Homo sapiens: one gene and its partners. The protein of the gene in region 3 purifies or fractionates together with the protein of the main gene of each other region. This does not show direct contact. Each region holds a gene or a part of one and is shown on either strand. Other genes may lie near its edges. The genes, in order: LMBR1, HS2ST1, UXS1, VPS8, GPC1, URB1 and FAM98A.

Evidence for each region.
Region 1: the proteins of UXS1 (region 3) and LMBR1 purify together in Homo sapiens (affinity purification with mass spectrometry; 2 studies listed by BioGRID and IntAct, with this or other methods). This does not show direct contact.
Region 2: the proteins of UXS1 (region 3) and HS2ST1 purify together in Homo sapiens (affinity purification with mass spectrometry; 2 studies listed by BioGRID and IntAct, with this or other methods). This does not show direct contact.
Region 4: the proteins of UXS1 (region 3) and VPS8 purify together in Homo sapiens (affinity purification with mass spectrometry; 2 studies listed by BioGRID and IntAct, with this or other methods). This does not show direct contact.
Region 5: the proteins of UXS1 (region 3) and GPC1 purify together in Homo sapiens (co-immunoprecipitation; 2 studies listed by IntAct). This does not show direct contact.
Region 6: the proteins of UXS1 (region 3) and URB1 purify together in Homo sapiens (co-immunoprecipitation; one large-scale study listed by IntAct). This does not show direct contact.
Region 7: the proteins of UXS1 (region 3) and FAM98A purify together in Homo sapiens (co-immunoprecipitation; 3 studies listed by BioGRID and IntAct, with this or other methods). This does not show direct contact.

What each region holds. Positions count from the first base shown.
Region 1 is NC_000007.14:156,725,684-156,729,183, reverse strand, and holds part of LMBR1 (limb region 1 protein homolog), read left to right. Parts: intron 1-463; coding exon 464-540; intron 541-1,176; coding exon 1,177-1,254; intron 1,255-3,346; coding exon 3,347-3,420; intron 3,421-3,500. UniProt on the Homo sapiens protein: Putative membrane receptor.
Region 2 is NC_000001.11:86,913,187-86,917,434, reverse strand, and holds the start of HS2ST1 (heparan sulfate 2-O-sulfotransferase 1), read right to left. Parts: upstream 2,801-4,248; 5' UTR 2,399-2,800; coding exon 2,275-2,398; intron 1-2,274. UniProt on the Homo sapiens protein: Catalyzes the transfer of a sulfo group from 3'-phospho-5'-adenylyl sulfate (PAPS) to the 2-OH position of iduronic acid (IdoA) or glucuronic acid (GlcA) within the heparan sulfate (HS) chain and participates in HS biosynthesis.
Region 3 is NC_000002.12:106,191,502-106,195,490, reverse strand, and holds the start of UXS1 (UDP-glucuronic acid decarboxylase 1), read left to right. Parts: upstream 1-1,189; 5' UTR 1,190-1,249; coding exon 1,250-1,343; exon of another isoform or gene 1,344-2,217; coding exon of another isoform or gene 2,218-2,293; intron 2,294-3,989. UniProt on the Homo sapiens protein: Catalyzes the NAD-dependent decarboxylation of UDP-glucuronic acid to UDP-xylose. Necessary for the biosynthesis of the core tetrasaccharide in glycosaminoglycan biosynthesis.
Region 4 is NC_000003.12:185,049,635-185,053,104, reverse strand, and holds the end of VPS8 (vacuolar protein sorting-associated protein 8 homolog), read right to left. Parts: intron 1,230-3,470; coding exon 1,080-1,229; 3' UTR 501-1,079; downstream 1-500. UniProt on the Homo sapiens protein: Plays a role in vesicle-mediated protein trafficking of the endocytic membrane transport pathway.
Region 5 is NC_000002.12:240,459,663-240,463,162, reverse strand, and holds part of GPC1 (glypican-1 precursor), read right to left. Parts: intron 973-3,500; coding exon 581-972; intron 1-580. UniProt on the Homo sapiens protein: Cell surface proteoglycan that bears heparan sulfate. Binds, via the heparan sulfate side chains, alpha-4 (V) collagen and participates in Schwann cell myelination.
Region 6 is NC_000021.9:32,390,213-32,394,460, forward strand, and holds the start of URB1 (nucleolar pre-ribosomal-associated protein 1), read right to left. Parts: upstream 2,801-4,248; 5' UTR 2,699-2,800; coding exon 2,557-2,698; intron 1-2,556.
Region 7 is NC_000002.12:33,586,230-33,589,299, reverse strand, and holds part of FAM98A (protein FAM98A), read left to right. Parts: intron 1-780; coding exon 781-965; intron 966-1,979; coding exon 1,980-2,060; intron 2,061-2,621; coding exon 2,622-2,738; intron 2,739-3,070. UniProt on the Homo sapiens protein: Positively stimulates PRMT1-induced protein arginine methylation. Involved in skeletal homeostasis. Positively regulates lysosome peripheral distribution and ruffled border formation in osteoclasts.

The DNA of each region.
Region 1 (3,500 bases), on a different chromosome or scaffold from region 3:
GTGTTTAATGTAGCAAACTGGTTTTAAAACTCTGATTTTTGTCTGGGTATCGTAGTTCGTGCCTGTAATCTCACCATGTTAGGAAGCTGAGCGGGGAGGATCGTTTGAGCCCAGGAGTTCAAGACCAGCCTGGGCAACATAGCAAGAACCTGTCTCCACAAAAAATAAATAAAAAAATTAGCCAGGCATGGTGGCATGTATCTGTAGTCCCAGCTACTTGGGTGGTTGAGATGGGAGGATCACTTGAGCCTAGGAGGTTGCAGTGAGCTGCGGCTATACCATTGTGCTCTAGCCTGGGTGACAGAGCAAGGCCCTATCTGTAGTTTTTTTAGTTTATGGAGGAAAATTAAAAGTAATTTATGTTTTTTAAAAAGAAATTATGTATAAAACAGATTATAGCATTATGGAAGGAAAATGTTAATTTGGAGAAAACTTTGTTTTATTTTGTTTTTCCTTTTAATAGAGAGGCGAAAAAAGGCTTCAGCATGGGAAAGAAATTTGGTGTATCCCGCTGTTATGGTTCTCCTTCTTATTGAGACAGTAAGAATTTATTTGCCTAGTTAAATAAAAGCAAATTATATTTTATTTACTTCAGCATTTGAGTATGGCAGCTCCCTCAGCTAAATGGTTTTTCATAAACTAGTTTTCTATCAACAGGATTAAAATCCATCTATGCCTTTATTTATGAAAATCCAATAAAGCAAAAATGGAAATTAATGGCAATTTAAAAAAAATTCTGAAGATTATCTGTTTCTTCATGAAAGCAGGAAATTCAGTCTTTGTTTTCATTGAAAATTAAGAAAACAAGGTGTTGCAGATAACCTGCTTTAAATTCTGTGATAAAATATGAAAATTACATTATGAAGTTAGTTCTGATAATATTTTACCACTTTTTTAAGTCTGTGGAGTTGTGTGTTTCCAATTGGTGAGATCACTTAGTAAAAGGATCTATATACTACCAGCTTTTGTCACAAGCTTTGAAATGACAATAACTTGCAGAATCTTTTAGAATTTCTTCAGTTCTTGTTTGTAGTCTGATTACTTTAGTTTTATATATAGCGTTTTGGTCTTGACTGCTTTCCCTCTATTCTGAAACGTGTATTTGGTTACCTAGATTTTAATATTTTGTATTGGTGAAAAATCTTGAGAGCTGACAGTTTGCTGTTTGTCTTGTAGTCCATCTCGGTCCTCTTGGTGGCTTGTAATATTCTTTGCCTATTGGTTGATGAAACAGCAATGCCAAAAGGAACAAGGGTAAAGTAAAATCCTTTAAAATGTCTTTCTTTTGCAAAAGTATTCTATGTCTATACCCTGAGTATTTCAAGTAAGCAAATGAAAACATTCACCTTTGTGCATGTATATACTTCAAGTTGTATGAATTTCTTTATGCAAAGAGCCTTTAAAATATAAACTGTGATTTTTGTTTCTAATTTTTTACTTTGGATTGACAGGGCCTTTTTTCAAGTGTTGGAATTTCCTTTTAGATTTCTTATCAGAGTTTATCTTGATTTTACTGAAATTCATTTAGCTATATGAAATTCCTTTAGCCATAGTCTTGATTCAGATCCCCCCACCTGAGTCTTTCCAGGACCTTGTGCCATCTGTTATTGCCATTGTTGTATTCACTTACAGCCTCTTCTCCATGAGTACAAGCCCACCATCATGCTCCAGGTGCCTCATCCTACAGACAGACAAGAAACTACCCTTTGCCATGTACAGTCTTATCTTTTTCTTTAGTTTTATACCCAAACCCACTGATAGAACAGGAAGTCGCTTACTATACTGACTTCCTAGTCACTTTTAACCCATTTTACTATACCAACAAAACAAGTCCCAAGCCCTATAGTATATTTTTGTACCCATCCCCCTTAGTGCTTAGTGGAGAATGACTTGTACGTCATAGGAGATCCCTGTATAATTGTGTAAAAAAATTAGATACTCTTAATCCTTCCTACATGGCTTCTCTTGAGATAGCATAATTCCAAAGTATTATCTCTGTTGATCAATAAGCTTCTGTAGGGGAGAAGAAGTAATACCTTTTTCTAACCTATTGGAAGGTTCATGGCTGAGATGCCTATAACAAAAGATTAATAAGAGAAAAGCTGACAAACTTATTTAAGATAAGTTTTACATATCACAGGGGTCTTCAGAAATAAAGAAGACCAAAGAAACAGAAAAAGCTGTGTACTTTTATGCTCTGGTTTGTTGAAGAGTGGACAGTAGTGGGAAGTATGATTGGAAGACAGGGGTGTGATCTAATGATTATAAACCGGGGGGATTTAGCAAGGCCTGTTCATATTCTTCTCGGTGTCCTCGTGTCTCCGGAGATAAACATGTGCTTCTCCTCTGGGTGGGTTGCGGGGGGCACCCTTGGATGGGGGTCTTATGGCCTGCTTCGCAGGAGAAGGAGACAGATCAGTGTGTGACCTTCCTAGGTTTTCTCAAATACCAGGTCCCAAATTTTGGAGTAGTGTGTCTTGAACCCCATCACTTTCTACCAGCATCATTTATTTCTTCTTCAAAAGATTGTCAAAAAGTTATTTTTTATTGGGCTGACTGTAGATTCTTAATTATCCCTGGTGTTTCTATTAGATGTAATCTGTGCTGACTAGTAAAACATTCAGATAGTTTCTTTTATTAGTAATCTTTGAAAATACTTCAGTAGGGAATGATTTTTTCAGATCTAATTATAAAAATAGTAACTTTTTTGTGTTTTTTTTTTAAGTTCTAGGTAAAGATAGTTTTTGAGATAGGGATAATTGTTTAGGAAAAAATTTATAGCATTACTTTTTTAAAAATCTATGTTAACAGTTACATCCTTTGTAACTCTGAATTCCCAAGGAAAATTTGGGCAAAGGAAACTTTCAGGTATGGGAACAGGATATGCACATTTACTCTCTTTCTACTCTTAGCTTAATTTTGACATACTTGAATTGTGTAATCTTTGTATATTGTGTAAGCATTCAGATAGCTATGTATCCTATTCTTATTTTTCTATTGTGTTTTTAAAAACTCTTTCCCAAAACTATTCAGGATTTTTTTCCTCAAGTGGCAAGTTGCCCCATTTTATAACAGTAAGCATAATCATGTCATCTTGACAAGTAACTTAAATTACATTTGAGATAAGTAATTTTTCTTGAGCTTATTAAAATTGTTAACATGGTGCCTGAATTTGTTGATGAAATCAGTCTAATGTCATGTCTTGTTGGCCTTTGAAAGTCTAGATGTTATTTCAAAGTAGTAAACATTCATAATTTCAACTGTCTTATTTTATGAAACAGCTGTTTTAGGGAAACCAATATAATGGTGTCATCAAATTCTGAAAAGTGTCTTTCTCCCACCCCAGGGGCCTGGAATAGGAAATGCCTCTCTTTCTACGTTTGGTTTTGTGGGAGCTGCGCTTGAAATCATTTTGATTTTGTATCCTTTCTTTAACTGAACGTTCAGCCTATCCACAAATTTTATACCAAGTTTTCTGGGGCAGTAGTTATTTACTAAGA
Region 2 (4,248 bases), on a different chromosome or scaffold from region 3:
CGGTTCTCATGCCTTAGCCTCCTGAGTAGGTGGGATTACAGGCGCCCGCCACCCCGCCCGACTAATTTTTGTATTTTTAGTAGAGATAGGGTTTCACCATGTTGGCGAGGCTGGTCTCGAACTCCTGACCTCAAATGATCCGCCGGCCTCGGCCTCCCAAAGTGCTGGGATTACAGGCGTGAGCCACCGTGTCTGGTCAAAAATGGCTTTAAATGGTGTTCTTACTTTAAACACGAGTATCTACGATGAAAAGTGCCTAGTACAGAATATGGTTGTCAAAATATGGTTTCCTCTGCTAGGCATGGTAACACCCACCTGTACTCCCAGGTATACCCATCTGTAGTCCCAGGAGGATTTTGATGCATATTTACTACTTTTTATGAAATTTTCTTTCTTGTATCACAAGAAAGCACTTTATATTTTAACTGTGGCATTATACATCTTCAGATAACTTTCTTTTAAAAATCATTCAGATTGTGTCTATGGAAGCAATTTTCAAGTATATGGGGAAAGAAATGTTAGGAAAGGAGGAAAATCAAAAATTTAAGTCATTCTAACCCACTGTAACGTGTCTAAGAAATCAACTCCAGACAATTCCAAATAGTAACAAAACAAAAAATAAGTACAAATTTTAATTTTAATATAACTTTCCACTTCAAGAGGAGTCTTTTTTTCTGTAGAGCTGGATCATTAATAACGCCAGAATATGACCCTGAATGTCGCTAAATGGATCCAAAAGAAAAGAAAAACCAGACTGGATAACCTTCAATATTTAAAGTGGACATTTTTTTCCACCACACAAGATACATATTAATAAAGGAATTCGTAAATAAACTGAGTATCTCTTCAAATTTTACTCTAGAATTGAGGGCTGGAAGTAACTCTAGTTTTCCTCCAACTTTAGTTGCACTTCACTCAGATTTACTTGATGGTTTTTCTTTCAAGGCTCTTTAAAATGTCAAGGCTTTTGCAAAGCCTTGTACCAAAATAGCTACTATACATAATATTACAATTATTTTCTGGTACATTTTTCCTAAAAATTAATCATCCACTCACAGTAACATCTATTTCTTAGTCTAAATTACACTGCTGAGGGTTTTTTGTTTTTGTTTTTGCTGGCTTCTCAAAAGGTATTTAAAATGATTTTGAGGTGAGAGTATGCAAAAAACACTTCACATTACTTTTCCATATTCAAATTACATCCTCTTGAGCTGATTTTTAAGTGCCATGTACATTTTTAAATCAAAATTTATCACTGTCATTCTTTTAACTCTCGCTCTCCATGCTGAGCTCTTCCAAATGCCAAAGTGCCCTATTAATCCGAAAGTACCTATTATCTGTGCTTTTTTCTGGCCTGTCTTTCACAACTTCACACCAACTTTTTGTACTTTAGACCCCCTCATCCATTAAAGCACCTGTTAACCCTTTAAGGTATTTAACCATATGGTTAGCTTTCCGCATAATCCTACTTTTCCTTTAACAAACACAAACTTCACTACATAATTCCCCTTCAGCGTTCCCTCCTCTTCGAAATTCACATCAACACTGCCGTGAAGCAACATACATAGGCATCCCTATTCTCAAGCCCCAATTCATCAGTTTAGCGCCACTAAAGAAGAATTTAAATCTCCGGACCCTCATTTCCGTACTCCGATGAAGCTTTGCACTCGCGTTCCCGCACTACCCGGCCAGCCTCCCTCAGCTGGCAATTACAAGGTCCTTTGCTGCCCGGAGCACAAGAGTGCAACTCGCTACAGTGTTCACATGTTGCTCTCCGTCATCCCAGCATCTCCTCCCATTTCTGCGCACCTATCCCTTCATGAGCCCCCAAAAGAATTCGTATCCAGATGCCCATAGCTCAAATTAGAATACCCCTCATCTGACATTGCCAGGGCTTCCTGTACGACTTCCAAGAGAACACGCGATGCTAAGCGCTTCTGTCTCCGGAGACCAGCAACACACGCTCCCCACTGAGTTCGGTCTTCTCTCTCGCTCTCTCTCCGCGGAATGCCTACTTCGGGGCTACCCTTTGGCTAGGGAAGCCCAACCTTGCAACCTCTGCCCCGTGACCTCGCGAGCCCAGCACGCCGCTCAAGCTTAATTCAACCCATTCTTGGAGCTCGTGCTCTCGCTGCCCCTTGTTCCCGGTTCTCTTTGAAACCGCTTTCAGCCCCCGAGCCAGACCCCAGGTTAGATGAACGCCCACTTGCTCCGGCGGCAGCGCCTCCTCGGCCCCTTCCACAGCACTCAGCCCGGGGCAGTTCAGTTCCTCACCTAGCTTCGAGCGGGACTCCTCCAGTTTCTGGATCTGGTTTTCCAAGAAGAGCATCGCCACCGCGAAGGCCACCACCGCCAGCAGCTGCAACTTGGGCGGCATCATAATCCTGAGGAGCCCCATGAAACCCGCTGCTCGGGATCAAGACATACCGCGGGGGGCGGGGAGCGGGACCCCGGAGGCGAGAGAGACGCCGGGAGGAGCCCGCCGAGCCGGGAGCGAGGCAAAGAGAGAGCGACAGCGAGAGAACCACCGCAGCGACCCCCCTTCTCGCCTCTCCAGTCCCCCTCCCCCAGGCGCTATCACCAACGCCGCTGGTGTCCGCTTCTCCTCAGCCGACTAAACGGCCGCCCCCTCCAAAAGCCCGCGCAGCAAACAGCGCGAAGCGGCTGCCGGGCTCTCGCCTCCCTCTACTGCCTCAGTCCCCGACCCCCGCGCCCGCCTGCTTGCCCGCCTCCCTCTCTTCCTTCCTTCCCTCCCTCCTTTGCTCGCGGCCGCGCGCCCCTCCACCGGCGCTGCGGCTGCGCCGCCCTCATCCCCGCCCCCGCCCATCCCCCTCCGCCACCACGCGCACGCATCCGCGTACGCTGCTCGGCAACCAGAAGCCCCGCCCCTCCCCCCGTTCGGGTCCGCTTATTGGACGGAAGAGCCCCTGCGCTTCGCTCTTGGTTCGGTTTACGGTTGGTTTCCTCTGCCACAGAGCTCAATCAAGACGACATTCAATTGGGTAAACTTGGAGAAGAAGGCGGGGCTAAAACTGGCGAAGGCGTGGCTTCTTGGCTGCTTGACGAAGTGTCGTGAATAAAAGAAAGGAGACCGCAGAAGTAAAGAAGTGGGGAGTTTAGGCAAGTGCCTGATTTGGGTAATCGAAAGCACCCAGTGATTGTATTTGATGACTTTTAAGCTTTCATATGCCGTTATTTAATACCTGTCACTTCCAAATGAGAGATGTAAGGGCAACGGCCGTTAGCGTTCTGTTTTGGATCAGGCTCTGGAGTGGACGCCCCTAGCTTAGGGGTCCTTCTAGGCAGCCAGAAACCTGCGGAAAATGGTAGCGATGGCGGCTGGGCCGAGTGGGTGTCTGGTGCCGGCGTTTGGGCTACGGTTGTTGTTGGCGACTGTGCTTCAAGCGGTGAGTGTAGATCACCTTCGCAGCTGCCACAGGGAGAGTAGGAGTGATTGCAGCTGAGAAAGACGCAACATTCGGTCCTGGTTGAAAAGGGTGGGGAGGACTGCGCTTCCTTAATGACTGCTGCGGCCAGAATGCAACGTGGCTTAATTTCTCGGTTGATCCTTCTCCTTCCCCGCCTTGGGTTTCTAGCAGCAGTTTTCTCTTGATTTCAGATTGTCTTGGGTACGTAGCTTCTCTTATACGGCTCTTGCTAAAAACAATCTGTAAACCACACCAGGTGGGAGGGGGGAATAATAAAGCTTGGCAAGAAGTGGAGGTTGTTTTTAAATGGACAGAAATGCAAGAGACTCATGACGAGACTTCCAACTCTTAGAGGCAAGTCTTCAAGTCGTTGGTCCAGGCGAACAGTTTGTGTTTACCTCTCTCGCGCGCGTGCTCTCTCATTTTCACTACTTCTGTTAGTCTCTTAACTTCCGTTCTCCTCTGCTATTCATATACGGCTGGCTGCGCTTGAGTGCGATTTGTGCTTTTAAACAATGTTGTTGGAGTAAAAGGAGTTATCTATACCAAAGTATAATTCATTTTTGAAGTTAGTTTTTTAAATGATGTTCGTTGTCTTCTTTAAGGCAGCGTTTTTTATTTCATTTTTCTCTATTGGCAGAATAGATGGGTGACCTTTGAATGGGAAAAGTGTACTTTTAACTTATTTCTTCTCATATCCATGTTCTGCTGTGTGAATAGTAAAATTTTAGGCACAGTGCTGAAAGCTTTTACGTTTTTTTATCCTAGCTTAATTCTTCGGGTAGTCTCTAATAAGGAGACCTGGTTTAATTTACTTATC
Region 3 (3,989 bases):
ATAGTTTGAAAGATGTAACATAAAGCTGCTGCTTTAGTACCAGCTGCCATATTTCCTTTTCTTGGAGGTTTCTAATAAATCTAAAGGAGGGTGATCTATTAAGTTTTGCAAAATGGCCTGAGGTTCCAAGAGGTAGGAGAGCCGCTGCTGACTTCAACTTCTCCGTATAGCTGAAGATGACCTCTTGAAGCCTGCAGATCCCAAATCCGGGATCTCTCTTAATGTGGCATCACACACATCTGTGTGTACCTGTCTTTTTTTCCTCCATGGGACCAGCTCTCTCCAGATCCAATGACAAGCTTCCGATTATCTGTGGATCTTCTGATACATCTCCTTGCTTGTAATCATCATTCAGTAAATGCTTTTTAAACACAGGTACCTCCTATGCAATCAGTACAGCACTCATAAAACAGATATACTCAACAAAAAGATTGAATGAAACACACACGACAACATGGTCAGGGTTTTTCTCTAGGCAGAGACAGCGCAATTTCATCTTTTCTTTTCCAAGTCTATCCTAAATTAATATACTTAGCACTGCTTTTTAAAATAATAATAAAAGACTATTATTAAAACAAAGGCACCCCAGTTGATCATAGCCAAGGAAAAAAAACGCAGCCAGTTTTTACTTCGGCAAGGTTTAGGGGATTTATCATTTTCGCTGCCGATATTCTAACTAAAAAAAGCCAACTAAACAGCCCAGAGAACGAGGCAACTTTCTGAGGCAGGCATTCAACTTCTAAGGCTCGGCCAAGTTTAGCAAATAAGTTTCGTTTCACTGCAACACCGGAATGCCCACCGCGTGCCCCCCTCCGGGCGGGGCTCGGAAACTGGCCACTGCAGTCGTGCCCTTGGGTTGGGGACGCACCTCAGCGAAACGAATCCAGCCGCACCTCCCGGCTGGCACCCGCGCGCTTTAACTCAGGGAAAACAGACCGGAACGCGCATGCGCCGCGGCGCGCCGCACCGCCCACCAGCCCTCCAGGTCACATTCTTCGAAAACCAAGGCAAGAAAGGCGGCAACTGCGCCTGCGGGTAGAGAAGCCGGAGGGGCGGGGGCGGAGCCGGAGGAAGGGGGTGGAGGCGCGCCTGCGCGGTGATCCCGCCAGCAGGAAGCAGGCGCGCGGGGGCGGGGGCGCGCGGCGGCAGGAGGCGGGGCTCTCGGGGCCGCTGCCGCCGCCGCCGCCGCGCATTGTGCAGCAGGCGGGCCCCCGCGCGGTAGGGCCCTGGACCCGCGCGGCTCCCGGGGATGGTGAGCAAGGCGCTGCTGCGCCTCGTGTCTGCCGTCAACCGCAGGAGGATGAAGCTGCTGCTGGGCATCGCCTTGCTGGCCTACGTCGCCTGTGAGTGCGCGCCCGCTGCCAGCTGGGGAGCCCCATTCATTCCCCGGCGCCGCGGTGGGCCGGGCGGCGGTGGTTCGGGGCCCCGAGGCGGCCCTGCAGCCCCGCGTTGCTCCCCGCCCCGGGCGGGGCCGGCGCTTTCTGCTCCCACCCCTTTCCACTCTTGCAGCAAAGCGGGCCAACTTGGGCGCACACCCCCTACCGCTTAGGCCCGGGCGCGGACCCCGGGCGGAGGGGCCCCTAGCAGTCCTCGGGCGGCCCCAGGTCTCTGCCTCCTGCCCGGGCGCGGGGGACTCGGCGGCGGCGCTGTCGTCCATGTCGCGCTGGGAGCCGGCGAGGGTCCCGGTCGGGGACTCCGGAGCGTGCCGCGTGGGGATACCCTTGGGGACAGCCGAGGTCGCGCCGCGGTGTCGGTTAAGTCGGATAAAAATACTGTGGCCATTGGCAGAGCCCCCGCTCCGACTGTTTGCTCCTCAGGAAAATTACTCAGCGTTTAACTCTTGGGGAGCCAAGTGTGGGCGGCTCCCCGGCCCGCGGCCGTGCCCAGGTGTCGGGGCGCACCGGCATCCCCATTCTAGGTTTTCCCCCGGGGCTCGGCGGCCGGGCGAAGCAGGCAGGCAGCTGGGTGGCCGGGCAGGGCGTGCCTGCAGCTTCTCTGTGCGCGGGTCCAGTTTCTGTCATCGCTCACAGCATGCTGCCTGGAGACAGGGCAGGAGGGGCACTTCGCAGGCAGGTGGTCGGCCCTCTGCTTGTTAGGGAAGTCAGAAACCGTCCTTTTAAAGATCTATTCGTTGGGAATGTTTTAATTGATGCTATTAATACGTTACCAAGTAGCAAAATTGGACTAGAAATAGCTCCCAGTGTGAGCTGCGTTTGAATGCTAGCCACCCAGACACACACTGAAATGAAATCACCTGCTAACCTGTTGGCGTTACCAAGATCTGATTCCAGAGGTGAGTGGGTACTTCACTTGTCTGAAGTGACTTCAGTTGAGCTCTAGGAAGGCAAGTATGAGTAGATCCAGCCTGTGTGCTACAGCCCAGCTGTTCAGGAGGTGGAGCTGGAAAACCCCAGCAGGACTCCGGGTTGCTAGGGGAGGTTTCAGGCGTCGGATGGGTGTTAGATGTGTGTAGTTTTGCAAGGGAGGAAGAACTAGTCTAAAGTGTGTGTGTGGTCAATCTTGAGTAAGAAAGCTGAGACCCAAGAGGAAAGACCATTTAAAGTTGAATAACTATTATTATGGCAGTAATACTACCTACATTTGTTGAGTGCTTAACTGTGTGAGTCATGATTCTTAGTGCCATTGTCTCAATCATTGAGCAACCCTGGGAAATCGGTACTATAATGATTCCTATTTTAGAGGTGAGGAAGTTAAGGCCAAGAGAGATTAGGAAATTTATGGATGATCACACAGATAGTAAGAGAAGGAGGGCCAAAATTTGAACCCAGAAAGGCCTGGGAGCAGGAGCTAGAACCCAGGTCTTCGAACAGCAGTTTCAATGTTTATTTTGGGGGTATTCTATAGTCGCTGCAAGGGTTTAGAATTAATAAAGTAGGGGATTTATGGAGCCATGGGAAGTTTTTTTTTTTTTTTTGAGACGGAGTCTCGCTCTGTTCAGCCCAGGCTGGAGTGCAGGGGCGCGATCTCGGCTCACTGCACGCTCCACCTCCCGGGTTCACGCCATTCTCCTGCCTCAGCCTCCCAAGTAACTGGGACTACAGGCACCCGCCACCACGCCCGGCTAATTTTTTGTATTTTTAGTAGAGACGGGGTTTCACCATGTTAGCCAGGATGGTCTCGATCTCCTGACCTCGTGATCCGCCTGCCTCGGCCTCCCAAAGTGCTGGGATTACAGGCGTAAGCCACCGCTCCCAGCAGGAAAGTTTTTTAACCAATCATTCATCTGACCAGGAAATCTTACCAAGTCCTTACTGTTGTCCCTGAATTTGGCACTAGGAGACACCATGGGGTGCTAAAACTTAACTGGTCTGTGCTGTGATGGTACAGACCCTATACCACATAGTGTAGCACGTTGATTCTCAGACTTAAGCATGCATCAGAATCAGTAGGGTTTTTTTTAAAAAACACAGACTGCTTGTCTCCCACCTCAAGTTTCTGATTCAGTTGGTCTGGGATGTGGCCTGAGAATCTGCATCACTAATAGGTTGTTCTGTATGCTGTTGCTGTGACCTGACACCACTTTGAGACCCACTGGCCAAGATGGTGAGGTGGGCATGAATTGGAAATGAAGGTTAAATTACAAACTGGTGTGAGGAAAAGGAATGCATGAGAACTATGCCAGGAACTCCTGAGTGAGAGCAATCAGGTACGTTTGTTTTGTTGAGGAATCAAAAGTGAGCTGAGAATGGACGGCTTATGTAGGAGTTAACAGGGAAGTCATAGGAGAGAGCGTGTTCTAGGAGGAGCAGTGTGTGCAGAGGTCCTGCGGCAGCCAAGAGCAGGCAGTATTCTAGGAATGCAAAGAAGGATGGTATTGTTGGAGTGTGAAAACAAAATTACAGCCATGAGGCTGCCCAGGCAGACAGGGGCCAGAGCAGGCAAGCAGGCAGGCAGGCCTGGGGTGCAGCCCACGACATGGTTGATTTTAGCTATGAGGGGTTTAACACAGGGTGGAGGCAGTGTTAATA
Region 4 (3,470 bases), on a different chromosome or scaffold from region 3:
CTTGAACCTGGGAGACGGAGCTTGCAGTGAGCCAAGACAGCACCACTGCACTCCAGCCTGAGCAGCAAGAGTGAAACTCTGTCTCAAAAAAAAAAAAATTTCTACCTAGTTTATGTATCTATTTCCTGTGGGTTTGGTTAGTATCAGTCCATGAGAGCCTGACGATTCCATTGCACTGAGAAAAGGATCATCTGAGTATGTAAGGTGGAAACCTAGGTGTCTGGGTGTGGCGACCTCCTGTGGCAGTTGGTTCAATGATATACGAAGTCCCATGGCCAAAAACTGAGTACTATTCTCTTTGGCAGCCCAGCGCCTGTCACGGGAGCATATGGGTGGCTGGGCTGCTCTGAATACAGCTGACAATGGAGCTGCTTATCTGAATTAAGGAGGGTTGTCACAGGCAGGATTCCTGACTTTGAGCTAATAAAATTGTGACAACAGGGCTCGAAATGTCCTCCATGACTTGACAGACTGAGAGCCAGCCAGCCAGGAGACCTGCAGAACTTAAACACGGAGCATTTATTGTTAGAAAGGGCAAGTCTTACACTCAAATAGGTTTTAACATGAACACATTAAAGGGAGATGGCCCTGGCCCCCACAGTGTCTGCTCTCTCCAAGGCATGCTTCAGTTATACTGCAGCCTGGCCAACCACTGTTCCCTGTAGAAGTTGAAGTTCCTCTGTATTATCCAGCAGCTGGAGGAGACGGAGTATGGCAGACTCTGGAATGCCATTTGTGTGAGTTCCACCTACTTTCTAGGCTTCAGGGTAAATGGAAAAAGTCGCAATAGGCGAAATGTATTTCCTAAAAAGCTGGACAGAGGTATGTGACATTCCTTTGCTTAACAAGCAAAACAAAATCAATGAGTCTGGTGAACTGACGCCATGACAGCAATGTGGAGAAGACTGGGAGTCTACACTGGGAATGGTGCTGTGGACGCTCTGGGCACAGAAGCCCAATTTGGAACCTCTTCTCAGAAGCGTGGGAGGTGGTGGAGGCCAAGCCCACCAGAGGCGGGGCCTCTCCCCAGCTGCCTCGGGATCATCTCTGGTTCTCCTGGGCCAGGCTCCATGGAGTCATCAATCCTCAGTCACAGGTGGAGGAATGAGCTGCAGCTGGAAGTTCTCATTCTGGAAGATGCTGTTGAAAGCAGGAGCACTCTGCGAGCCACTGAATGGCCTATAGCTCTCGCTGCTGCGATTCTGGGAGAGTTCCGTGAGGAGAGCCAGCTGCAAAGGAAGGACACACATCAGCTAAGGTTTGTGGGGAGCAGAGGGAAGAGAGGCTCCTGAATCCACTGCTTCAGATACATGAGAGACAGTGCTGTGTTGCAGGAGTAGTAACATGCAGGGTTTGAATCTTAGGTCCATATATCACAAACGAGCAGTGTGACTTTGGGCAAGTTCACTTCATTTTTTAGGGTCTAAATTTCCTCATTCAATAATGAGACTGGACTGGTTTGCTCCCAAGGGCACTCAAACTGTGCTCTCTCTGGCACTGGAGAGCTCTCCCACCCTGGGCTGGCCCTGTGCTGAGGGCTCCTCCAGCTGCTGTGGATGGCCCTGCTGCCACCCTTCTCTCCCTGTGGACGCGCCCTGGGCTGAGGAGCTCTGTTCTCAGCTCTGCTTGTTCCAACCTCTCCATCTTGGTGCACTCTCCTCGGGGTGAATGACTAATTATGACCACTGGCTCTGACCTCTCTTCTGTAACCTGGAAGGCCTCAAACAGACACCCAGCTGCCAACTCAAACTCAGGGGTTCCAGAGTGGAACCCCTGGATTCTACCTTCTCCTTCAAGTGAGTCCTCTTTGCTCCCAGCTTCCTTATTCCCACCAATGACACTAGCAGTACCCTCGTTCTGTCAGTGGCTCAATTCTGGAAGACCTGCCAAGGAGGACAGAAGGGTAGGAGGAGATGCTAATGTCGGCCTGTTGGGAAGCCAGTGCTCTGCCACTCAGGGGGACCATCCCTTTCACCTAAAGAGGCTTTCTGCGAAAGTAGGGAGCTGGCAGCCTGGCTCTTGAGGTGCCCTTGATGGTCAGAGGAGAGACGAATTCTACACCCAAGGTCCTTAGACTTCCTGCCTGATTAGGGTCTTTGCCTGTTGCTTCCCAGAACATTGTGAGTTAACTTCCACCCCACAGAGCTAATGTGAAGGAGAACTCAGAGCCCAGGTCAAAATGGTCCCTAATAACAGTAGTTGGGACCTGTGGGATGGGCCACTGTGTCCACTACCAACACTCTAAGGGACCCTGTGTAGGCTCACATGGAGGCCAGTGAAAGCCTGGTCCATGGGGAGTGTACAGCTGAGACGAGGGGGCCATCAGACTCCTCAGGGCAGCCCTGTCTGTGTCTACCAAACACTCCAGGAGTCCGAGGGGATGTCTAACAACCTCTGGTGACTGTATCAAGTGTCTTTCCATGACAGGCACTTTGCTAGATCCTTGACATGTGTGTTATTTCTCATCCTTCACAACACAGTGACTTGCCCTCGGTCACCAGCAGTGAGTGGCGGTGTGGGATTCACCCGCCAGGCACCATGTCTTCGAGGTGCCCTCCGACCTCTGGCAAAGGGTTTTTCCCTCACACAGGCAATGGTGGCACAAGCTCACGTGTCCATGTGTCACTTCTGTGGAAAACTCAGTACCAGTGGCTGTGGTAACTGGGAAGACATCTGAAGGCCCCTAAGTTCTAAGTGTCAATTTATCAAAAGTGGTCCAGGTCCTGGCCCAGAGACACATGTATGGTCTCATTCACAACTCAGTAACTCTGACTCAAGCACTACTCCAGGGGCCAAGAGTCCACTTCGTGCCACTTCCTTCTTCCGTAACCCTCTCAGTTGCCCATCAGCCTGCGACGTTCTCTGCAATGACTGTTATGTACGATGCCTTGAACAGAATGAGCCACAGACGCTCAACTCAATGCTTTCACATCCTGACACTGTGAGGTGGGAAGATCAATTGCAAAAAAAAAAAAAAAAAATTATTTCCCAGGAAAACAGATATTTTTGTGTTCCACTTTGGTAACTTTGTGATCCGGAAATCAATGAGCCTTAAATAAGGGCTCAACAGTTTGAAGCAGAAGAACCTCCTTGGAAGGCCCAGAAACCCAACTCCTGGGGCAGAGCTTAGCTGAGGCTGGAAAGGGATGGGGGTGAGGCCAGTTCAATAAAGCTGCTGGACTGCATCCAGGAGACCCCTAGAGAAACTTCCTGGAATAACAACCTCTGCCCACACCAACTCTCAAAGAAGGAGCACCACTCTTTCCTCCGGCTGCCAAGTAACCTAGTAGGTTCTGCCTAAGAAAGGGGAGTGCGTGAAGGGGGCCCAGGTAGAGAAGCAGAGGACACAGCAGTTTGCACAAGCTCGAGACAAGCTCAGGAACAAATGGGACCACCTAGAATTGAGGTGTGATTTGGGGAGTGAAGAAGATGGTAGGGTTTGGACTCATTCTTTAGGTGGTGGAGATCCA
Region 5 (3,500 bases), about 130 Mb from region 3:
TAATGATCTCGAGGGTCACAGGGAGGCAAGAATATCCTCACCCGCATGCCGCTGAGGAAACCAAGGCATGACTTGCCCAGGAGCCTGGAGGTGGGGGCAGTTCCCACCCAGGGCATGTGGGTCTGAGGCTGACGCCCTCCCTATGTCCCAGCTTAGCTGGGTCTGACACGTGCCCCGCAAGGGACCAAGGCATCCCCCTGGCCTGCGAGGCTCTGGGGCCCCACCCTGCCCGGCCCCCACGCATGTTGTTCTCTTCTGTCTCCTCTGCACTTTCACTCCACAGCCTGGCTCAGCGTCCAGCCCCAGCCCCTGGCCCTTCCCATCCTGGCCCATGATGGTTCTGGGCAGGGATGGGCCAGCCCAGAGCCGCCTGCCCAGAGCAAGGCTCACATCTGTGGGTACGCTGTTAGCAGGCCATGGGCAGCAGCCAATGCAGGAGGGACTGAGGCTGTGGGGCTGAGGTCAGAGGCTGGCCCAGAGGCCCAGGGGCACAGGGTTAAAGTAGGGGGAAGAGGAAGTCCCTTGGGCAGAGCATGGGGGTCTGGAGGGGTTTCTGAGAGCCCTGGGTGGCTGTGCGCACCTGAGCCACTTTCCGGACCACGTCGCTGGCCACGCCCAGGCCCTGCACAAAGGAGCGAGCAGCCACGAAGGCACGGGTGGCCCGCAGGCGCAGCTCTCTCGGGGCCTCCCCGAAGGGCCGCAGCGCCTCGGCCTGCTTGCCCAGGCAGTCCAGGTAGTCATCAGGCAGCAGCAGCTGGGGGTGCAGCTGCTTGAAGAGGCGCTCGAGCAGGCGGGCCCAGAACTCGGCCAGCGTCTCCTCCAGGTGCAGGTTGGCACCGCGGTAGTACAGGCGCAGCTCTGAGTACAGGTCCCGGAAGGCCCTCGCGTTCTGCGTGTACAGCTCTCCGAAGGCGCCGGGGAAGGTGGCCTGCAGCGTCCGCTCCGAGTCGTTCAGCAGGTGCTGGAAGTGGTCTGCGCACAGGGAGGGGGCGTGATCGGGACCATGTTTCCCCCGCCGTGGCAGCTGGACCAGAGCAGGGGACTCAGCCCGGGAGACTCAGCTCTGAGGATACACTCTGAGGACCTCGGAGTCGGACGCCACACTGCAGCGGCTGTGGGCCCTGTGGGCATCCATGGGGCGCCCCGAGACCTCACCCCCTGGCCTGGGGAGCAGGGGCCCAGGTGGCAGGGGGTCCTCTCGGGTCTCAGGGCCTCTGACTGGGGCTCCAGTGGCAGTTTCTGAGCTGAGCCCTGGGCAGAACAGATGCTCTGTGACTCAGTGACCCCCTGAGAACACCCAGGGAGGGGCTGCTGGTGGAGATGGGGACTCACTGGGGTAAGAGGGGCAGGGCCGGTCTGTGCCCCCCTGCCAGCCGCTCCTTCTCTCCACTGGTCCCCACTTGTGCTCCCCGTGGCCCCAGCCGCCTGCCCTGCGAGTCTCCAGGGCTGCTGCCCCTCCCGCCACCCTGTCTCGGCTGCTCTCCTAGGCTTCTTGTCTTCTCTCAGCTTCTGCGATTTAGAAGCTTCAGCTGTGAGCACCCCGGGCCTGTCTGAGGGCTCTGGGGGGCCTCCTGCAGCCTAGAACCCCAGACATCTCCCCTGCTGGGCAGGGGGTGTGGAGGCACAGGCTCACCCTCAGACCTCCACATGTGCTGCAGGGGCTTTAGGGAAAAGCCCCCGTACCCCGGGCCTAGATGGGACCCTGGACTTCCCCATCCCATTTGGAAGTGGGACTTCCAGGTCTGTAACTGCTCAGAGCGTCCCTAGGGCTGTGGCCGGCTTTGCCCCACAGGTACCGGGGGCTCGATGGCCCACCACAAGGTGCTCCAGGGTAGCAGGGCAGAGGCTCTCCTTTGAGGCACGGGGGCCGTCAAGCCTGAGATCTCTGGATCAGCCCCCACGCTGACCCCTGGCAAGGCCTGGGGCTTCAGGGCTGGCAGGGCTACAGAGAGCTCCCAGGCCGCTGTGGGGAGGGTGGACGGGCCACACAGCTGTCCAGTGTCCACCTTGGGTCCTGGCGCCTGGAACGCCCTGGCCTGTCCCGGAAAGGGGCGGCTTGTGGTTCATGCATTAGCCCAGACACACCTAGAGGGCCATGGGCCAAATCCAGGTGCAGTCCCCAGCTCTACCTCCTGCCAGAACCCATTCAGCTGCTCCTGAAGGCTGGTGGGGGGGCGGACACAGGGCTCCAAATCCCTGAACACAGCAACCAGAGGTCCAGCCAGGCTCCCCTCCTACCGCCTCCCACTGGTTCCCACCAGCACTGCAGACAAAGACCCAGGGGCCCTCAGCTGCCCCGGAGGCTGGGAGGGGACAGCAGCTGCCATGGGCAGGGGTGGGAGGGGAGGACATAGGAGGTGGGGGTTGGACAAGACTCCCTGGGGTAGGGGCACAGGTGGGCCTTGGGCACATCACATAGTGGGTCATTTTTAATACAAATGTCCCCAAAGGGTGTCTGTGTTTTCAGGTCAAAGATAGGAGAGTTGAACAGGAAGGCTGGAGGCTTCCAGAGGGCAGCAGAGGGAGGGCGGCGGCAGGGCACTGACACGGGACAGGCCCCAGAGCAGGGCAGCGACACCAACCCCCTAAGAGCCAGGAGGAAGCAGGCGGGCAGGATGTCCCCAGGCCAGGAGGATGGTGTGATGGGCAAGGGTATTAGCAGGAGAGGGGAAGGGGCAGGGCTGGGTGGCACGCTGGGGCGGGAGCCAGGGCTCAGCGGCGCTGGGGAGAAACTGAGGCCCAGGATAGAGTGGAGGAGGTGAGCCGGGTCCCTACACATGGGACAGAACCAAGTGGCTCAGGAAGGCTCCTGACTCAGGGTGCAGGGGCTCGCTCCCCGGGTCCAGCTGGGCAGGAGGAAGGAGAGTCCCAGAGGGGCCACGCGCATCCCACGGGCCCCACACCAGCGGGGAGGGCTGAGCTCTGAGCATCGATGTCCAAGTCACAGAGAGGGAGCTTCTGACCCACTGCTACCCAGGTGTACGCCAACAGCTGAGGTCCCACAGCCCTGTGGAAATGGCCTTGGGGGCTCCTGGGGACAGGCAGACTCTCCCGGGAGCCTGGGAGGCCACAGCAGGTGTCCAGGAGCCGGAGAAGCAGGAACGCTGAGACAAACCCCAGGGCCCCAGCAGCAGCTGCCGTCCCTCACAGCCACAATGGAGCCCTGCAGCCTCAGCGCTCCCTCCCTCCTGTCTGCCCAGGCTCACTGTCCCGGCGCCCTGGCTCCGCCCGGACACAGGGGCAGTACCTCAGCCCGGGCCGCCTCCCTCCACCAAGTCCTCGTGTTTCTGATCAGAGGTCACTTCATGGAGGACCTCCTGACCCCACACTGTCCCCCTGGGGGTGGCTGCCACTCTCTGCCCAGACACAAGGCGAGGCCCAGCCTGGGCCGAGGAGTACGTGGCTCTAATGCAGCAGCTGGCGGGGCCTCAAGGCCTGCAGGGGTCACTCCCCGCGGCCCCCAGACTCCTGCCCCGATATAAAGGGCTGAGTGGCGGCCA
Region 6 (4,248 bases), on a different chromosome or scaffold from region 3:
AATGATGTAGCACCTGAATGTCATGAGGCTCTCTGTGCAAGACCATGAAATATAGATACTACATCTTTTTAACAATTAAACGTGCTCTTTCTTCTGCCAGTAAGGTTCCTGTCCCTGTCCCATCCTACAATCCTTTTGAAAAGCCACTTCCTCTGATGGCCAGTGATGATGAGCATTTTTTCATGTGTCTTTTGGCTGCATAAATGTCTTCTTTTGAGAAGTGTCTGTTCATATCCTTTGCCCACTTTTTGATGGGGTTTTTTTTTTTCTTGTAAATTTGTTTGAGTTCATTGTAGATTCTGGATATTAGCCCTTTGTCAGATGAGTAGATTGCAAAAATTTTCTCCCATTCTGTAGGTCGCCTGTTCACTCTGATGGTAGTTTCTTTTGCTGTGCACAAGCTCTTTAGTTTAATTAGATCCATCAGAGAAATGCAAATCAAAACCACAATGAGATACCATCTCACACCAATTAGAATGGCGATCATTAAAAAGTCAGGAAACAACAGGTGCTGGAGAGGATGTGGAGAAATGGGAACACTTTTACACTGTTGGTGGGACTGTAAACTAGTTCAACCATTGTGGAAGTCAGTGTGGCGATTCCTCAGGGATCTAGAACTAGAAATACCATTTGACCCAGTCATCCCATTACTGGGTATATACCCAAAGGATTATAAATCATACTGCTATCAAGACACATGCACACGTACGTTTACTGTGGCACTATTCACAATAGCAAAGACTTGGAACCAACCCAAATGTCCAACAATGATAGACTGGATTAAGACAATGTGGCACATATACACCATGGAATACTATGCAGCCATAAAAAACGATGAGTTCATGTCCTTTGTAGGGACATGGATGAAGCTGGAAACCATCATTCTCAGCAAACTATCGCAAGGACAAAAAACCAAACACCGCATGTTCTCACTCATAGGTGGGAACTGAACAATGAGAACACATGGACACAGGAAGGGGAACATCACACACCGGGGCCTGTTGTCGGGTCGGGGGGAGGGGGGAGGGACAGCATTAGGAGATATACCTAAGGTTAAATGACGAGTTAATGGGTGCAGGACACCAACATGGCACATGTATACATATGTAACAAAGGGGCACGTTGTGCACATGTACCCTAAAACTTAAAGTATGATTAAAAAAAAAAGAAAAGAAAAGCCACTTCCTCAGGGGAGCCTTCTTTGAGCTCCCAGATTAGATCCAAGGTCTGTTAAACACCCTCAGGCACCATGTACCTCTCCTTTGGAAAACTCGTGCTTGAAACTGTATGTATGTGATTTTACTGACCAATATCTGCCTGCCCCACTCGACTGTTTGTAAACCCCACAATGGCAGAGGCTTTTTGACATTTTTATTCATCACTTTATCTCTACCGTAGCAAATAATAGCCTCTAGTAATACTTAATGAATTCGGAAATAAATAACTCTATGCTAACTAAGTATCATCTTCCTAGCTGTGACTAGCAAGTACAGGTATAGGTATCAAAGTTTAAAAACAGGCCAGGTGTGGTGGCTCATACCTATACTCCCAGCCCTTTGAGAAGACAAGGTGGGAAGATTGCTTGAGACTGGGAGTTCGAGGGCAGCCTGGACAACATAGTGAGATTCCATCTCTACAAAAAGTAAAAAAAAAAAAAAAAACATAGCTGGGCATGGTGTTGTGCACCTACAATCTCAGCTACTTGGGAGGCTGAGGTGGGAGGACAGCTTAAGCCCAGAAGTTCAAGGCTGCAGTGAGCTATGATAGTGCCACTGCACTTCAGCCTGGGCAACAGAGCAAGACCCTGTCGTTTAAAAAAAAAAATGAGGACAAAAATTGGAAGTTGAAGATATTTTGGCCATTAATTTAATCGTTTATTTAACCTGGGAGAAAAACTGCCACTGTTTTATTTTAGAGCAATGCTTCCACATGGCAACACGTTCAATTGCGTTTTTCCCAAACCATGTTACTTTCCAAACGATTACAAGTAGTCGCGAAGGGTGGTCACACTTTACAAAAAGTGTAATTAAATTATAGAGTCGGCTACATCTCAGTCACTGGCCCATTCCTGGTCAACTGACAAGTAGCTGTGGTGGCTTCTAGTAGCTTGTTACAAGTCATCAAGTCAGTATGAGTGTTGGGGGATGGAAGCTATTGAAAACGGTGCTGACGGCCCAAGGAGTAGCAAACTGTCTCATGAACCGTCCTGAGCCGACTCAGTAAGGACTCAATAGAGAAGGACACTTCATTTACTTCCCTGACAACTGCAATAAAGAGGTTTTAGAGCTCGCTGAGGGATGCTGCCTGGGCAAGGGAAATAAATGTGTTGTAACATGAAACGGTCCCAATCAAGCAAGTCGGGGCCCTCTCGCTGTCGCCGACAGTCCAGAGCAAGGAAGTACACAGCAGTCCTGAACCTCAGTTTTCTGCAAACCAGAGGCTTGCCACTGAGCCTATGTGACCCGAAAGCTGCAGAAAGGAGAGGCTGTGCCCGGCACACGGAGGCCGCCTCGCCAGCCTGTGCTCCCGACCCTGCGCCTGCCGCCCCGGACTCACCTGGCCCGGGGCCCTGCGGGTCCTTCAGCTGAGCCTTGAACCGCACGCCCGTGAGCTCTTCTTTGCGGGCGCGCTTGGCTGCACCCGCGGAGGAAGCCGCGCCGTCCTGGCCGCCCGAGGCCTTCCTCTTGGGGACCCCCATGGCCGAGAGGGCGGAAGCGCGACGGAAACGACACACCTGAGGGGACCCGGCAGGAGCACTGGCACAGACAGCAGACACGCGCTTCAGGCCCACATGGCGCAGGAAGAGGCGGGGCTGGCGGAAGAGGCGGGGCTGGCGGAAGAGGCGGGGCTCGGGGAAAGGCCGGCGGAAGGGGCCGACCCGCGCGAGGCTGGGACCGGCGGAAGGGGCGTGGCCTGCAGAAGGGGCGGGGCGATAGGGATCCAGAGTCTTGGGGATCCAGAGTCTTGGGGCTCCATGTGAGTTTGCTGTACCGGTTGTCCCGGTCACGGCATGGGGCGAGCGGACACTCCACGACACCCCCCGCCCCCGGCTGCAGGGTTTGGGGTCCACCGGGGCGCATTTCTGATCCCAGTGGCTCTTCGGGTGCTCTTGGCCGGAAGAACTCCCAGACCTTTCACTCCTGGCCTGGCCGATCCACGAAGACTCGGGCCCCGGCGCGTCCAAGCAGCACAATGAGTAGTTCTTGACCCGAGGTCGCCCTGAAGGTGTCGCATGAAGAGCTTGCTTCACACACAACAGGATTCGATACTTTGCCAATTCAAGGCCCTGGTGGCTGGCCGGGAAGGTGGATTCGCCTTGGCTAGGTGCCAGGCAGGTCCGCCTGTGCGGGTGCCCCTGACTTCGACCCCTAGCTTATGTCACAGCCCGAACCAGATCGACTGGTCTGGTAGCAGCCTGTCACTCCAGACTGTCCTCCACCCCAGACTTCCGCAAACTGATGGGCTCTTTGCGCCGTGCAGGGTGGGAGGAGAAGACCAAACGAAGTAACGTCTGTAAAACCCCTTCCTGGACAGCGTAAGGCCTCCACATCTAAGTTCCTGTCATTAAAATGGAGACAGCAAAGCCGACCCTATCCAGTCCTTGGGACTGTTATGAACAGAAAATGATGCAATGTATGAAAAACTGCTTTGAGGAGAAAAACAACACAGTGTGTTTTTGGAAGATGTGATTGATTTGTAAACCGCATTAAATGCTCTGAAATAAAATGAAAGTAAAAATAAGTAAAAACAGGCTGGTACATATTTTAATACGACTTCATCGATACTTAGGTATGTGTCCAAATAAATCATGAACCAGCGCATTAGATAAGTAACTTGGTGATTACTGAAATTCTCCATCAGGTTGTCCTCTAGTCTAAGAAAATTGTGTTTCATATTCTGTAAGCAGATGTGTTTTGAACATCTGAGGATGTGGGCTTTTGTGGCCTGTTGGGGTCTCAGAGTTTCTAGTAGAAAAAGCACGTGTGTTGACGCTGAGCCTCTGTCCCGACAAGATGATTGTGCCTGTGGAGATGTCTATGTTGTAGGCAGGTCAGAGAGAGGGTGTCACCCCTAGCAGATATGAGCTAATGCAGCAATGTTAAGAGAGGGGAATATGCTCAAAAAGTCATCTGTAAAAGGCAACACTCATTAGTGAATACAGACTTAATTCTGACTGATTATCCACACTGGTCCTCTTCTTTGGTTAATCGCTAACCACCAACTTTGTTTTCTGCCATGGTGGTCCCA
Region 7 (3,070 bases), about 73 Mb from region 3:
TGAATTACCTGAAACAGATTGCAGCCCCCATTATACCAGGCTGAAATCAGCACACAAGGGGATGATACTGACACAAAGGGAACCATGCCAAAAAGTGCTTTGAAGGTTTTATGGTTGTTTTGAAGGGAATGGGGTGAGGAAAGTAGGGGGAAGGGAGTCCTGAGAAGAATATAGATGAAAGAGGGCTCTCTTTGATTAGCCAGAGGGCAACATAAGATTTGGAGACCATGGGAAAGGAGCTCTGGGGTGCCTTCCTGCTTCTCCTGTGAGTTAAGCTTTGACTTCTTATAAATGTTGTTTCACACCTCTTCTGGACAGGCTCCTAATTAATGGGAGACAAGAGAGCAAGGTAGTTGTGTCATTGATGCTCACAAGTAGTGAGAAGTTAAAAAAAAAAAATTAATTGTCATTAAAAATTGGTCACCTGCCTTCTTTTGCAAAATTTTTAACAGATGCCAACCCCTGTTCTGGAGGTTCCTTAATACCAGAATTCAAGATTCCAAATTTTTAGATGTTACTTACCTCGATCCTTCGGTTTCAAAGAGAATCGCTTATTTTAAAATTAACATTTAAACATTATATATCGCTTAAATAACTGAATTACATAACCAGTTTATTTCTTATTTCATTTGCAGGTAAAAGTAGTTTTTCTTTCTTGTTTTTATCCATTCTTGCAGCTTTAACAGTTACATATCAATAGGTCTATATAGTTGTGACTCCAGACTTATGACTATAACTATAGCTGTATCTCATTTTGAAATCTTATTTTGTTTACTTCAGCATACCTCATCTCAGAACTAGAAGCTGCCAGAATGCTCTGTGTGAATGCTCCTCCAAAAAAAGCTCAAGAAGGAGGCGGTAGTGAGGTCTTTCAAGAGTTGAAAGGCATATGTATTGCTCTAGGAATGTCCAAACCTCCAGCCAATATAACTATGTTCCAATTCTTCAGCGGGATTGAAAAAAAAGTAAGACCTTTAGTACCAAATTGTAGTGTATTAAAGGCATAGTCCTACATTTGTTTGAAATGAAGCAATTAATTTAATTTCTCTTAATGGGAACCTAATGTGCATATATTATTAAGTAATTGTTACGAAATGAGTTTTGGGTTTTAAATCCTAGATGCCTTAAAGATAAATTAGTATTTTAGTATTTTCCTAAAAACATGTTAGCATGTTTCTTTTTCAAAAAGGAAACTTTACACTGGTTTGTAAGCTAAAGTAAGCTAGATATAATGTAAAAAGGATTAAGATTTCAGTCCTTTTAAAAATTATTTTATCATTGAACTTTGATACAGTCAATTTAAGTTCTTTATCACTAAATGTTACCACCCTCCTCCCCATTGACTGGACAGAAAGGATATTAATATTTTTGTTTTTTAATCCAGTCACTTCAAACCTCATGCTTCAATTGACAAAATAGATTTGTTGACTGCTAACATAATCTAGTATGTGAAAAGAAATTAGAATTATTTTTATACCACACATTATCAGTTAAGATTTTCTATATAATTAATTAGGAACAAGCAATTTTAACAAAAATGAGTAGAAGAGAACGGTATTTGTTAAAGCACAGTTATTCCCTATACGCTTATCTGCTGGACTCTTAAGAATTGGTACATTTGCATTGTGGGGTAGACCAGCACCATGATGCACAAATTTGGCTGAACTCTACAGGGGAGCAGCAGTGTATCCATAGTCCATATTTTCCTGTGTGTTCATTCATCCATTCAGCAAATGTTCATTGAGTGCCTACTGTTGTCAGGCACTGTTCTAGGTGCAATGAAGGACTTCTGTAGGCGTGAGGAGTGGGACCAGTGAGTGTCTTTATCTTGTGGGTCTTTTACATTTGCATTTCAAAACATCCTCCACCTTTGCCTCTGTCAGGAATCTTCTTTTGATGGCAAGATATGATGGGAATTGGGAAGATGAGGATGTTTTACTTTTAGAGTTTTTATTCATTTATTTATGTTTTTGTGTCAGTTAAAGGAAACATTAGCAAAAGTTCCACCTAATCATGTGGGAAAGCCTTTACTGAAGAAGCCAATGGGACCAGCCCACTGGGTGAGTAGTAATCATCTTGAGTAAACTTTGTAAAGAACTATAGAGTTTATGATTTTCATGTCAACACTTACATTTTGTGCTTTTTAAATTATGTTTTCTTATACATAGTTTTCTAGTTGAACACCCTTAGAATCATTTTGTGAATCTCAGGATTTCTGCAGAATATTTTTATTTGTGTAAGATTAGAAGCACTTTTCTCATACTTTGTAAATATTTCACACAGCTGATAAAAGTAAACTGAAATTAAGTATGGTGCATGTTTCTCGTTGCCAAATGGATTGCCTTCAAGCCAAAAACTTCACTGGGCTGAGCTTCACACAGTAAATTATGGGAAAGATAAATAAGAATTGTGTACTTCACATACTCTTCATTATGTTTTGTGAATCAGCTTTTTGTCACCTATCATTTCATTAATTGTTAGTATATTATATGGAATAAGAACTTTTGACTGTTAAATGGCCGGGATCTCAGTTATGAATGACACAGACGTAGTTTTTGCCCTTTTGGGACAGAGAATCAAGCAGATTTAAACTCTAACTAGTCTTTTTAATTTTGCTTCAGGAAAAGATAGAAGCAATTAACCAAGCCATAGCCAATGAATATGAAGTCCGGAGAAAGCTGCTAATAAAACGTTTGGATGTCACTGTACAATCCTTTGGCTGGTCTGACAGAGCTAAGGTACACATTAAATAATTTAAAAGAGCAGACTATTTATAGACATGATCCCTGAACATCTAAACAATTTAGCTACTTGGCAACTATGGGAGAAGTACATAGAAGACACACATAGGGATTTTTCCTTAGTGAGTTATTGAGTAGTGGCTCTTTCAACTATTCAGCAATGATGAAAACATTTATTTTTCAATTTTCTATTTTTTAACAAATCTGAATTTTACAGTTCTTATTGGAGAGAGAAGTTCTTATTATGAGAGAAATGGAGTTATTCTGAAAATTACTAAAATAATAAATTGATTTCAAATTACTTGTTTACTTTAAATAATTTAATTTGC